Linked DNA regions of Homo sapiens. The protein of the gene in region 2 purifies or fractionates together with the protein of the main gene of each other region. This does not show direct contact. Each region holds a gene or a part of one and is shown on either strand. Other genes may lie near its edges.

Evidence for each region.
Region 1: the proteins of CUL9 (region 2) and ZNF845 purify together in Homo sapiens (affinity purification with mass spectrometry; one large-scale study listed by BioGRID and IntAct). This does not show direct contact.
Region 3: the proteins of CUL9 (region 2) and FAM83B purify together in Homo sapiens (affinity purification with mass spectrometry; one large-scale study listed by BioGRID and IntAct). This does not show direct contact.

The regions. Positions count from the first base shown.
Region 1 is NC_000019.10:53,332,219-53,335,969, reverse strand, and holds the start of ZNF845 (zinc finger protein 845), read right to left. Parts: upstream 2,222-3,751; 5' UTR 2,178-2,221; intron 1-2,177. UniProt on the Homo sapiens protein: May be involved in transcriptional regulation.
Region 2 is NC_000006.12:43,180,558-43,184,308, reverse strand, and holds the start of CUL9 (cullin-9), read right to left. Parts: upstream 2,114-3,751; 5' UTR 2,060-2,113; exon of another isoform or gene 1,221-2,059; intron 8-1,220; 5' UTR 1-7. UniProt on the Homo sapiens protein: Core component of a Cul9-RING ubiquitin-protein ligase complex composed of CUL9 and RBX1. The CUL9-RBX1 complex mediates ubiquitination and subsequent degradation of BIRC5 and is required to maintain microtubule dynamics and genome integrity.
Region 3 is NC_000006.12:54,867,140-54,870,790, forward strand, and holds part of FAM83B (protein FAM83B), read left to right. Parts: exon of another isoform or gene 1-1,577; intron 1,578-3,047; 5' UTR 3,048-3,107; coding exon 3,108-3,551; intron 3,552-3,651. UniProt on the Homo sapiens protein: Probable proto-oncogene that functions in the epidermal growth factor receptor/EGFR signaling pathway. Activates both the EGFR itself and downstream RAS/MAPK and PI3K/AKT/TOR signaling cascades.

The DNA.
Region 1 (3,751 bases), on a different chromosome or scaffold from region 2:
GCCTCCCAAAGTGCTGGGATTACAGGCATGAGCCACTACGCCCTGATGTCCCTTTTAAAAAGTACTATGGGCCAGGCGTGGTGGCTCATGCCTGTAATCCCAGCATTTGGGGGGCCAAGGCGGGTGGATCATCTGAGGTTGGGAGTTTGAGACCAGCCTGACCAACATGGAGAAACCCCGTCTCTACTAAAAACACAAAATTAGCTGGATGCAGTGGCTCATGCCTGTAATCCCAGCTACTTGGGAGGCTGAGGCAGTAGAATCAGTCTGAACCTGGGAAGCGGAAATTGCAGCGAGCCGAGATTGTGCCATTGCACTCCATCCTGGACAAGAGTGAGATTCCATCTCAAAAAAACAAAAACAAAAACAAAAACAAAAAACAAAAAACGACTATGTAGGCCAGGCACGGTGGCTCCTCTCTGTAATTCCACCTGTAATCCCAGTAATTTGGGAGGCCAAGGCAGGACGATCCTTTGAGGCCAGAATTGAGACCAGCCTGGGAAACAGTGAAACCCCATTTCTACAAAAAAAAAATACAAAACCTAGCCGGACTTGGTGGCTCACGCCTGTGGTCCCAGCTACTCAGGAGGCTGAGGTAAGAGGATCGCTTGAGCCTAGGAGGTCGAGGCTGCAGTTAGAGGAGATCACACCACTGCACCCCAGCCTGGGCGACAGAGCCAGACCCTGTCTCAAACTATAAATTAATTAATTAAATTAAAATTATTACATAATAACAGAAAGTGATTTTTTTCTCCCACTTCACTGCCCCATTTCCTACCTCACCATGGGAAGAGGGAAGAGAGGCTCTCACAATTGAATTAAGTCACTACCCTCTGGCTGAATAGGGATTCCAAGTGGAAGCTGACCTCTAATGCCAAGATTTACAGAATGTATGTGTCTTATAGATAGGAATTTTAAAATTCTCAATATCATCTGTATAATTTAAACAAGTTCTAAGTTATTAGATTATATAAACAGAAGTCAACATATCACAACTAATCATATCCAATGAACTCACCCACTCATCTGAACCCAAAGTCCCCCACCCCTTTTAATCTTTTGAGACAGGCTCTGCTCTGTTGACCAGGCTGGAGTGCAGTGGCATGATCTCTGCTCACTGCAGCCTGGACCTCCTGGGCTCAAGTGATCCTCCTGCCTCAGCCTCCAGAGCAGCTGGGATTACAGGTGTGCACCATCACGCCCAGTTAAATTTTTTTTTTTTTTGACAGAGATGGGGGGGGGGGTCTCACTATTTTGCCCAGGCCGGTCTTGAACTCCTGGACTCAAGCAATCCCTCTGCCCCAGTCTCCTAAAGTGCTAGGATTACAGGCGTGAGCCACTGCGCCCAGCCCCCCTTTCTTCATTACTGTGCTTCCCTCCCTAATTCTGTACATATCTCTCATTCTCCCCTTCTCTCTCTAGCTCTTGTTTTCTTTTTCCCTGGGATCTGCTCCTCCTGCTGTTTTTTGTTTTGTTTTGTTTTTTTCATTTTTGCTCTCTCTTGGCAAATCCCTCACTCATCCTCTACTTTGCCATCTGTTATGGTCTTTCTCATTCTTCTTTTCTCTGTCTCAGGTTTTCTACTGCTCTCTCTCTCAGTCTCCTGATCCCTTTGGCCAACACAATCACAGGAGGGCTTTGGAGTAAGACGCCTGCATCCCGGAGGAGCGCATTTTCCAGGGGCTGGTGCAGGGCAGGCAAGAACACCCGGTGTCATAGGACAGCCCCGGGCACCTCCCCAACGCGGGCTCAGGGTAAGCGGTGACTGCGGTGGGGAGACCTGGGGAGCATAAGGGCCTGGAACGAGGAGGGAGGTGGGGGGCGACGGCGCCTTAAGACAAGACTGGGAGGCGCCAAGGGCGGGAATCCGCCTCGCGGTAAGGACTTTAAAAAGTGCGGGTCGGGAGGAGTCAGAAAAAGGTTTTGAGCAGGGAAACTACGCGATGGGAAGTGTATACATTGCCCTATAGCAGAAAGATTCGGGAAGGGACCATCCTCAGGGCGACTTTAAACCCAAAAGGAAGCGACCCCTGGACTCTGACGAGGACGTCTAAATTTGCTCTAGGTGAAGGAACACGGGTGAGAATTTCCAGGTCTATGGGGACCCCACGTCCCAGGTACAGAAGCGCCGGGGACTTGGGAAGCGCAGACTTAACACAACACAGAGCAAAACTCACCGCTGCGGTGGGACCATCACTCCATGCGATCCGCTTCCGGGTTTGCGCGAATCTGCGCGCGCAGGACAGAAGCCAGGCCTGGGCGGGACCCGCGGGGAGGTAGGCGGGGCCTGAGCGAGGTAGGGGCGGGGCGCGAAGCGGAGAGACCTTCCCCTTTAGAATTGGCAGAAGGCGGGGCCGGGGTGGGACCCGTGCGTCTCTCAACCTCGCTCCCAGCGCCTCTTGTTTTCGAGCTTTGGAGGCGAGACCGGACAGGAAGGCTGAGGCATGATTCAAAAGCCCTGGAATTGTCTGAAACGGGGATGCAAACTAGAATGTGAAATGCAAAGCCCTGCCTGGGTGGAACATACGATTTCATGCTGACGGCCCACAGAACAGAATAGAAATCCTCTCCCTTTCTATTCTCCATTCACTGGGAAAGGAGAGTCCACCCTGTCCTCAGCTTCAGAGATTTCCCTAGGGCCTCCCCCTGGGATGCGGGACGGAGTGCTCAGGCCAGGGAGGAGTGAGGTCACCACCTACTGCTTAAACACAGCAGAGATGCGGGCGCGGGGCGAAAGCCTGAGGTCCCAGCTACTCAGGAAGCAGTGGCAGGAGGATCGCTGAGCCGGGGGGGGGGTCCAAGTTAGCCTGGGCGACAAAGTAACACCTCCTCCGGCAGCGCTCCCTTCCTCGTCTCTCTCTCTCTCCTTTTTTAAAATTTCTTTAAATAAAATTTTTGATTTTGTGAGTTAGGGATCCAACATTATTCATTTTCACGTGGATATCCAGTTAGTTGTCCCAGCACATTTGTGGAAGAGATCTATTACTTTCATTTTTATATTTAGATTTTTCTTTTCTTTTCTTTTCTTTTTTGAGACAGAGTATTTCTCTGTCACCCAGGCTGGAGTGCAGTGGCGAGATCTCGGCTCACTGCAACCTTCACCTCCCGGGTTAAAGTAGTTCTCTTGCCTCAGCCTGCCAACTAGCTGGGATTACAGACGCGCGCCACCAAGCCTGGCTAATAGTTTTGTATTTTTAGTAGAGACTGGGTTTCACAACGTTGGCCAGGCTGGATTCGAACTCCTGACGTCAAGTGATCCACCTGCTTCGGACTCCCAAAGTGTTGGGATTACAGGCGTTAGCCACCGCGTCTGGCCAGGAAAACTCTTAGAAGTTGCGCCTGCATACCACTGGACTCAGCTTGCATGACCACATTCCTTTCAAGGCTCAGAATTATTTAAAGATCCATACATTTACATTGGAATTATTTGATGTTTGAAATATTTAATTTCCTACCGAGATACGGGTACTGTCTCCCTTGTTCTTTGCCTTTCAAAGAGAGACCCCAAGTCCTTCAGAAATACATCCATGGGGGTTATTAAGCTGAAAAAAGGATTACGTGGTTTCTAAAAAATACCACTTCAGGCCAGCGCGGTGGCTCACGCCTGTAATCCCACCACTTTGGAAGGCCGAGGCGGGCGGATCACTGGAGGTCAGGAGTTCAACCCCAGCCTGCTATCTTAAAAGAATACGCTGTCATGGGATATTGGGTCATCTGGACATTGTGTTTCTGTAGGAGTTTGTCCTTGCAG
Region 2 (3,751 bases):
TGACCTCCTGGGATACACAAGGAGAAAGATAAGGCAGTATGAGAAAAGAAAAAAAATACATGGAGGGGGTGGAATCTTGAGACACAGAGAAGGTGGGTGGTGATCGGTAGGCTGCATGGTAGAATTTAGGAGGCCAAACAGAAAAGGCAAAAAATAGGATGGAATAAATAGCTGAACATACTTTGGGATTTATAACAGAAGGAGAATGGAGTGAAGACAGAGAGGGGATGAAGAAGGGGTTTAAGAAATGGAAGAGTTGGCTGCGCCCAGTGGCTCACGCCTGTAATCCCAGCACTTTAGGAGGCCAAGGTGGGCAGATCACGAGGTCAGGAATTCAAGTCCAGCCTGGTCAACATAGTGAAACCCCGTCTCTACTAAAAATACAAAAATTAGCCAGGTGTGGTGGCACATGCCCGTAGTCCCAGCTACTCAGGAGGCTGAGGCAGGAGAATCACTTGAACCCAGGAGGCGGAGGTTGCAGTGAGCCAAGACCGCGCCACTGTACTCCAGCCTGGGCAACAGAGTGAGATTCTGTCAAAAAAAAGAAAAAAAGAAAGAAAGAGAGAGAGAGGAAGGAAGGAAGGAAGGAAGGAAGGAAGGAAGAAAGGAAGGAAGGGGAGTTTACAAAAAGAGAATTAAAACAGTAATAGGCAAAGTAACAATAAACAGAGTGACAGTTAAGCAAGACAGTTTAGGCAGGATAGCAGGGTGGCTGAGGGTTACAGATTAGGACTTAGAAGAATGACATGGGTGGACAGGAAGGACAGCAGCATGTGAGGCAGTGGGATCAGAACATGTGAGGAAAAGTAGGATAGCGGAGGGGCAGGACAGGGAGCATAAATGACAGAGTAAAGCTGCAAGGTGGATGTAAAGGGTGGGCCATGGCAGATATAGAGAATGGAGATGACAAAAGGCTGGGATGTTGGGGCAAATGACTGGATAGGAAAAGTATATTCGAGTCTTGTGAAAGGGGGAGGGCCCTAGGGACCAGATAAAATTATGGGAAAGATGACCAGGTCCCACCCTGCCCTTATACTGCATGTATGGTAAGGATTTAAGTAAGTTAAGTAGATAAGATAGAGGTGGTAATCATGGGGTTAAAGGTAGGAAATGAGGTCAGGAGAGAAGCAATATTCAGAGACTTCAGTATCAGATAAATGTGACTCTGAATTCTGGCTTTCTGTCTCACTGTCTGCATAGTTTGGAACAAGTTACTTAACCTCTGAGCTTGTTTCCTCTTCTGCAAGATGGTAGTAATATTCATAGTTACTTCATGAATTTAGTAGGATCATGTATGTAAAGCACTTGGAACAGCATCTAGCACATAAAGAGTGTTCAGTAAACATAATCTGTTATTATTCTTAGATGGAGAAGGTAGGGGAGTCATCAAATAAATGCAAAGTTATTAAGACCGATTATAAATGGGAGTGGAATAATCAGGAAAGATATGCGTGATATGAAGCAGTGCAGGGGCAACAGGGAATAGTGAGAATAAGAATGGAAGAAGGTAAACCCAGATGAAGATATAGTGGTCAGGGCAGGGGTCATGTTGGGGTACAGGGACAGAAGATGAGAGTAGAGGTGAAGAGGAGGGAGAAAGATGGATGTGGACCTCAATGGAGGTAGGGGTCCACTTAGGATGGGGGGCAAGCCTGGATGGTAGCCAGCGATGTGCCAGCGGGCAACTGATTAGCAGCAGGGGGAAGTAAAAGAATCGGATAGGAGGAGGTAGGAGGTGTAACGTCGGCCTAGAAGAGCAACAATAAACTGAGGTGTGGGGGTGAGCTCTGGACGCATGGATGAGACCAGCAGATAGCAAGGTCAAGCCCAAGCTTGCAGAGCCGTGGGGAGGTGGAGGAGGCCAGCACCGCAGAGGGAACGGGTTTGGGGGGAGGGGGAAGGATGGTTGGGGGCGCGGTCCAAAAAAGCTGAAAAGATCCAGTGAATCTCAGAGAGCAAGACCTGGTTCCCTTCGTCAGCCCCATGGACAGTGGCTAAAGGACCGGGGAGGGGACAGGAGAAGGGGAGGGATTGGGTCGGCGCAGAACTCTCCTCTCACCTCCCACCGCCCGGCTCAGCCCTCGCTGGGACCCAGCGGCCGGTCCCGCCGTCCTGGCCCCGCCTCCTCAGAGCTCCCTTCCGGGTCACACGGCGAGTGCACGCACGGCCGGGCACCTACGGGTCCCACCGCGGCCCACGCCGAGCGTGGCGGAACAGCGCGCGAGTGGAGCATGCGTGCTACCGCGGGCGGCTGCACTGGAAGAGGGGCGTGGGGGCGCGCTACCGGAGGAGCCTGGGATCGAGGTCACGTTGCTCCTCTCTCAGCAGCAGGAAGAAGCCGTTTCCATCCAGTCAACTGTGAAGCCCCCTCCTCTTCACTGGGTCGGCCCTCCTAATCCTCCCTCTCCCATCACAGCGATCATGCTGACGAAACATGGTAACCCACATTCCCACCTTAAGGCTGCCCTTTTTGACTTTTCAGTAGGTCAGGTGCCCATGAGTTTCCCAAACCCTTCAGCAATGCTTTGGATTAGTTGTGTCACTTTTCCTGTTAATTAAAATTTGCTCCTCTGCGTTGGCCTTAACACCTAGCGAAGCCACGCACAGGGAGAAGGTCCTCGGCCCCGCAAAACTTTCCTTAAATTAAATCGTATAGAATTAAACAGCCCAAAGCACACCTTAGCATTACCGTTCTCATCAAGCAGCCCGGATCGCTACTCAGAGCAGCAATTTTAGGAGTTTGCCTCGCGTTCATACCCCCATCCCTCCCTAAGTAGAAAAACAGAACCAAAGACCCCACAGTCTGTGCACAAAAATGATACATTTATTGAAAGAGTATTTTTTTTTAATACAAAAGAAAGCTCTGTACATAGGACTGTGACCATGTCCACTATTCCTGGGTCAGCATCCCAGGGGAAGTAGAAACCACTGACATACACACTCACATTCAAGCACACACACTCACTCAGGCGCACACACCCACACACACATACCCCAGAGCCACCGAGGAAGGGAAACACCAAGGGTCGCTGCACATAAAAATATCACCTCAACTCATCCCTGACACACGCATGTCCTCCCAAGGCCACGCTCACACAACACACATTATAAGCACTTTGCCTGATTCACTCACTGGGTCTGTCTTTTGTGGGAAGGAGAGGAAGAATTCATCAAAGGTCTCCTCCCCATGGGTGGGGGAGTGGGGAGTGAGTGAGTGATGGTGGAGTGAAACAAGAGCAGAGAAAAGGGGCTGGGCAGTTACAGACCTGAGTCCCAAGCTCCCCTGCTCTCTGGCCCCTGATTTGCCATGCCCCAGCCTTGAAAGCCACCCATAAGCCCCAGCTATCTCCAGGAGAAAGCCCAGAAAGGTGACTTCCATCTTGGCACCCCAAACTGGGGCAAGACAGCAATGAGGGTTAGAGGTTAGGGGGTTCTCAAACATGTCGGCAAATCATCCCCTTGATAACTAGGCTGTGCATAAAATCTTCCCCCATCCCTTCACCTAATCACAGAAGCCAGCTTGTTCCTACTGAAGGCAGTCTTAGGGGTTAAGAAAATTTCACCCCACTGCTGCCCTGTTTCTGAAAAAGCTCCCCTTCTGGATATAGGTGGTGAAGGTAGGCTCTGACACAGGGTAAAAGACCCTCCCCCCTATGCTGGCCCACCCTCAAGGTCTACCCCAAAGGGGGAGGAGGGGGGTGGGGCATGGCCCCTGTACAAATTACATAAATACTGAGGTTACACTTAGAAA
Region 3 (3,651 bases), about 12 Mb from region 2:
CTGGGAGTTTTTAATAGTTATTAATAAAATAATTCCTTATTTTTTATATATATATTTAAAGGCACACCTAATTAATTTTGTCCTCAAATAAAGCCCTCCAAATGTTCAGGGATTGAACTGCTGAGAGTGCTTTATTAAGTCTATAATTAAATACAGGTGATATTTAATTGCAATACTCACTATGCAAGTGCCATTACCCTGTAGTTCTCTGATAAAATTCATTTATAGATGGTTCCTTCACAAGTATTCCATGCAAATAGCTCTTATGATAAATATCTCTAAACCGTGGCTGGAACATAGCCTCTCCACCAGAACAATATAAAGTATATTTAGTAGTAATCTTAAGTCTTGTACATAATATTGTAACCTCATTGTTCATTCTGTTGTATGTTTTGTATAATATATTTTTCTGTGTGGTATCTGGCTATCGATTAGTCCTGTAATGGTAATTAATTATAAATAAGTTTCACTTCTTATTTCCAATTTTTTTCTTCAGATTAATTTATCTATGTTTTCATGGTTTGGTTTTCATGGTCCTTTCGAGGTCTGTGATTTCAGAGTTTACATAGTTCCAGAATGAATTTTTTACAGTTCCAAAATATTTATTTGCATAGGTGTAGCTCAGAAATAGGTAGTATTTTAAAAGTACTTTATGCATTTTAACTTCCAAATAGGTAACAGGTGTTTAACATCACATATATAGGAATTCAAAAGTTACATTTTAAAAATTAAATGAATAGGTTTGCAGGAAACTTGGATTATGAACAACTAGTAGTTACCTATGACTTAACAATTACAAATTACAGATGTAATTTATCATGTAATCACCAGATACTTGTTCCTTCATTGGCTGGAATTTTCAAGTGAAAACTGTACTTCAATAAACCTTAGGAAACTGTAAGCATAAGGATTGAGTCTTTTAAGTGAATGCAAATCTTATTTTTTAATTTTTTTTGCTAACAATGAGCATTATGTGCAAAAGAGAACTTCAATGAGTGTTGAAAGTTATTAATTAGTGGCATGATATCATGAATATGAAGTGAGCAACTTTATGAAGATTTGTCAACCTTGGCACTGTTGACATTTTGGGTGGGATTATTTCTAAATATGGATGGCTGTCTCATGCATTGTAGTATGTTTAGCAGCATCCTGGGTCTCTAATCATTAGATGCTAGTAGCCCTCCTCCGCACAAGTGATTCTATTTAAAAATGTCTCCAGATGTTGTCAGATGAGGGACAAATCTTCCCTTTTGAGAACCACTGAACTTGAATGAAATGTGATTGGGAAAAAGATGACATATCCTAGAATGATTGAGAAATTTATGAAAGTTTTAGGATGTATCCCAATACATGTCAATAGATTAATTTTAATTAAGTAACAAAAGAAATTTTATTTCCCCATGCGATAGCTTTTATACTAGCAGACAAGATGGGTGTTCTTCCTTTTTCTCTTGGAGAAGAGAATATTTTTGCAAAACTTCACCATTATACTATAGGGCAGGAAGACTGCCATCACCAGAATTCAGATGCTGCCATCCCCAAAGTTCAGATGCTGCACTGTGGAGCCTAGGATCCAGGTATAGTTCTAGTTGTCTGGGCTTGGATCAAATTATGACTCAAGCTGAGGGCTTTCCAAAAGACAGAAAAGAACATGTTCTATTTTTATTCCTGTATCATATTTAATCTTTGGGCTTTCTGTACTGTTAGACTTTCTTTGTAAAACTTCTGAGCCCAGAGATAGGAACAGGATTGTCTCCACTAAGATGGTAAATGGAGGCACCCTTTGTGTTCCATGCTCCAAGTTATCTTTTTAATGCTTATAGCACATCATAAATCTGTACCTTGAATCCACACAATGGAGATCATGACTTCAAAAGACTGGAAAGTCCATCATCTGATTGAGAGAGCCCATTCCAGTATCTCACACAGTGTGGAGTAGTGACTGAATGATTGAATGGAGAGCATTCTGTGGGCATTGTGAGAGATGGAATGTGAGCCTGCATAGGCAGATTTTGACTCCTAAGAGAAATTTCTGAATTATCTTTCATGTCTTAAATTTCATCTCGTATACTCTGTCCAGTCACTGAATCTCAAGGCTCCTTCCTTAAACCATCTCTGGAATACTCTGTCCACTTCCTCACTGCGTTTTTGAACACTGAAACACTCTCCTAGCTACCTGTCTCTTCTTCAGTCCCCTGCTACTGCCAGAATTGTTTCAAACAGAAGTTTTGTTGAATCACAAAACTTTGTGTCCGTCCATTCTTGGCTTTATCTTGTCTATTCAATTTTATCTCTTACTCCTGTTAAAAGGAACCTGTTTTCCAGCATGCCAGGTTTTTTTTTCTTTAATTTTTTTCTTCCTTCATAATTAGTGAATGTACCAAACTCTCATATCTCTTCCGTGATTTTGCTCATGTTTTTATCCTTGTATGGGATGGAAATATTTCTTCTTGCCACCTGATCAGATTCTTACTCATTGCTCCGGGTCCAGCCGAAGCCCACCTCTTGCTCAGGGCTGTTCATAACTCATTTGCTCCATATTGATCTCTACTTGCTTTTATTCTTAAAGCACTGAATATAGGCATTACTCATTTTGGCCTTTAGCAATGTATGGCTTTCTTCAAAGTGGTAAGTAATGTTTTTTGCGTACAATTTGCCTCCTCAACTAATTAATAAATTCCTGAAAGACCAGTGTTTTGTGCTCTTAACATTACATCTAGCATATTCTGTATGCCTGACAGGTACTCAGTAGAGACATTAATGGCTGGGTAGGCATTGATTGTTTTCTAATTCTCTTTTAATTTAAATTGAGATACCTTGGAAAAGGAAAATCCAACAGCAATCTGTAAGGGAAATCTGTGTAGCTTATTTGTGATAGATGTGTGAATTGTGGTGCTATTAATGTCATTTTGGATATGAAATATGTGTCATTTTGAGCTTCTGGTAATGGAAATGTGTAAATGAAAAAATAATAGTTGATATGTATCATAAAACATTCTGTTACCGAATTTTAACTTGATCTTGATTTTCTTCTTTTCAAATACCAGATACTTCTCACCACTGCATGAATGGACATTTGAAAGTGCCATAGCCAAACACTTGCAAGCATGGAGACCTCATCAATGCTTTCCTCATTGAATGATGAGTGTAAATCTGACAACTACATTGAGCCTCACTACAAGGAATGGTATCGAGTAGCCATTGATATTCTGATTGAACACGGGTTAGAAGCATACCAAGAATTTCTTGTCCAGGAACGAGTTTCAGACTTTCTTGCTGAGGAAGAAATTAATTATATTTTGAAAAATGTCCAGAAAGTTGCACAAAGCACAGCACATGGTACTGATGATTCCTGTGATGATACCTTATCTTCAGGGACCTACTGGCCTGTTGAGTCTGATGTGGAAGCTCCAAATCTTGACTTAGGCTGGCCATATGTGATGCCCGGACTCTTAGGGGGCACCCATATAGATCTCCTTTTTCATCCACCAAGAGCACATCTACTTACGATAAAAGAAACTATTCGGAAGATGATAAAAGAAGCAAGAAAGGTAATAACATTTCTATTTTGAAATGAAAAATTTGAAACATGTAGAAAAGTAGAGAGAGTAATAACACAAATATGTATGTTAATAAAAGAATCTCTATATG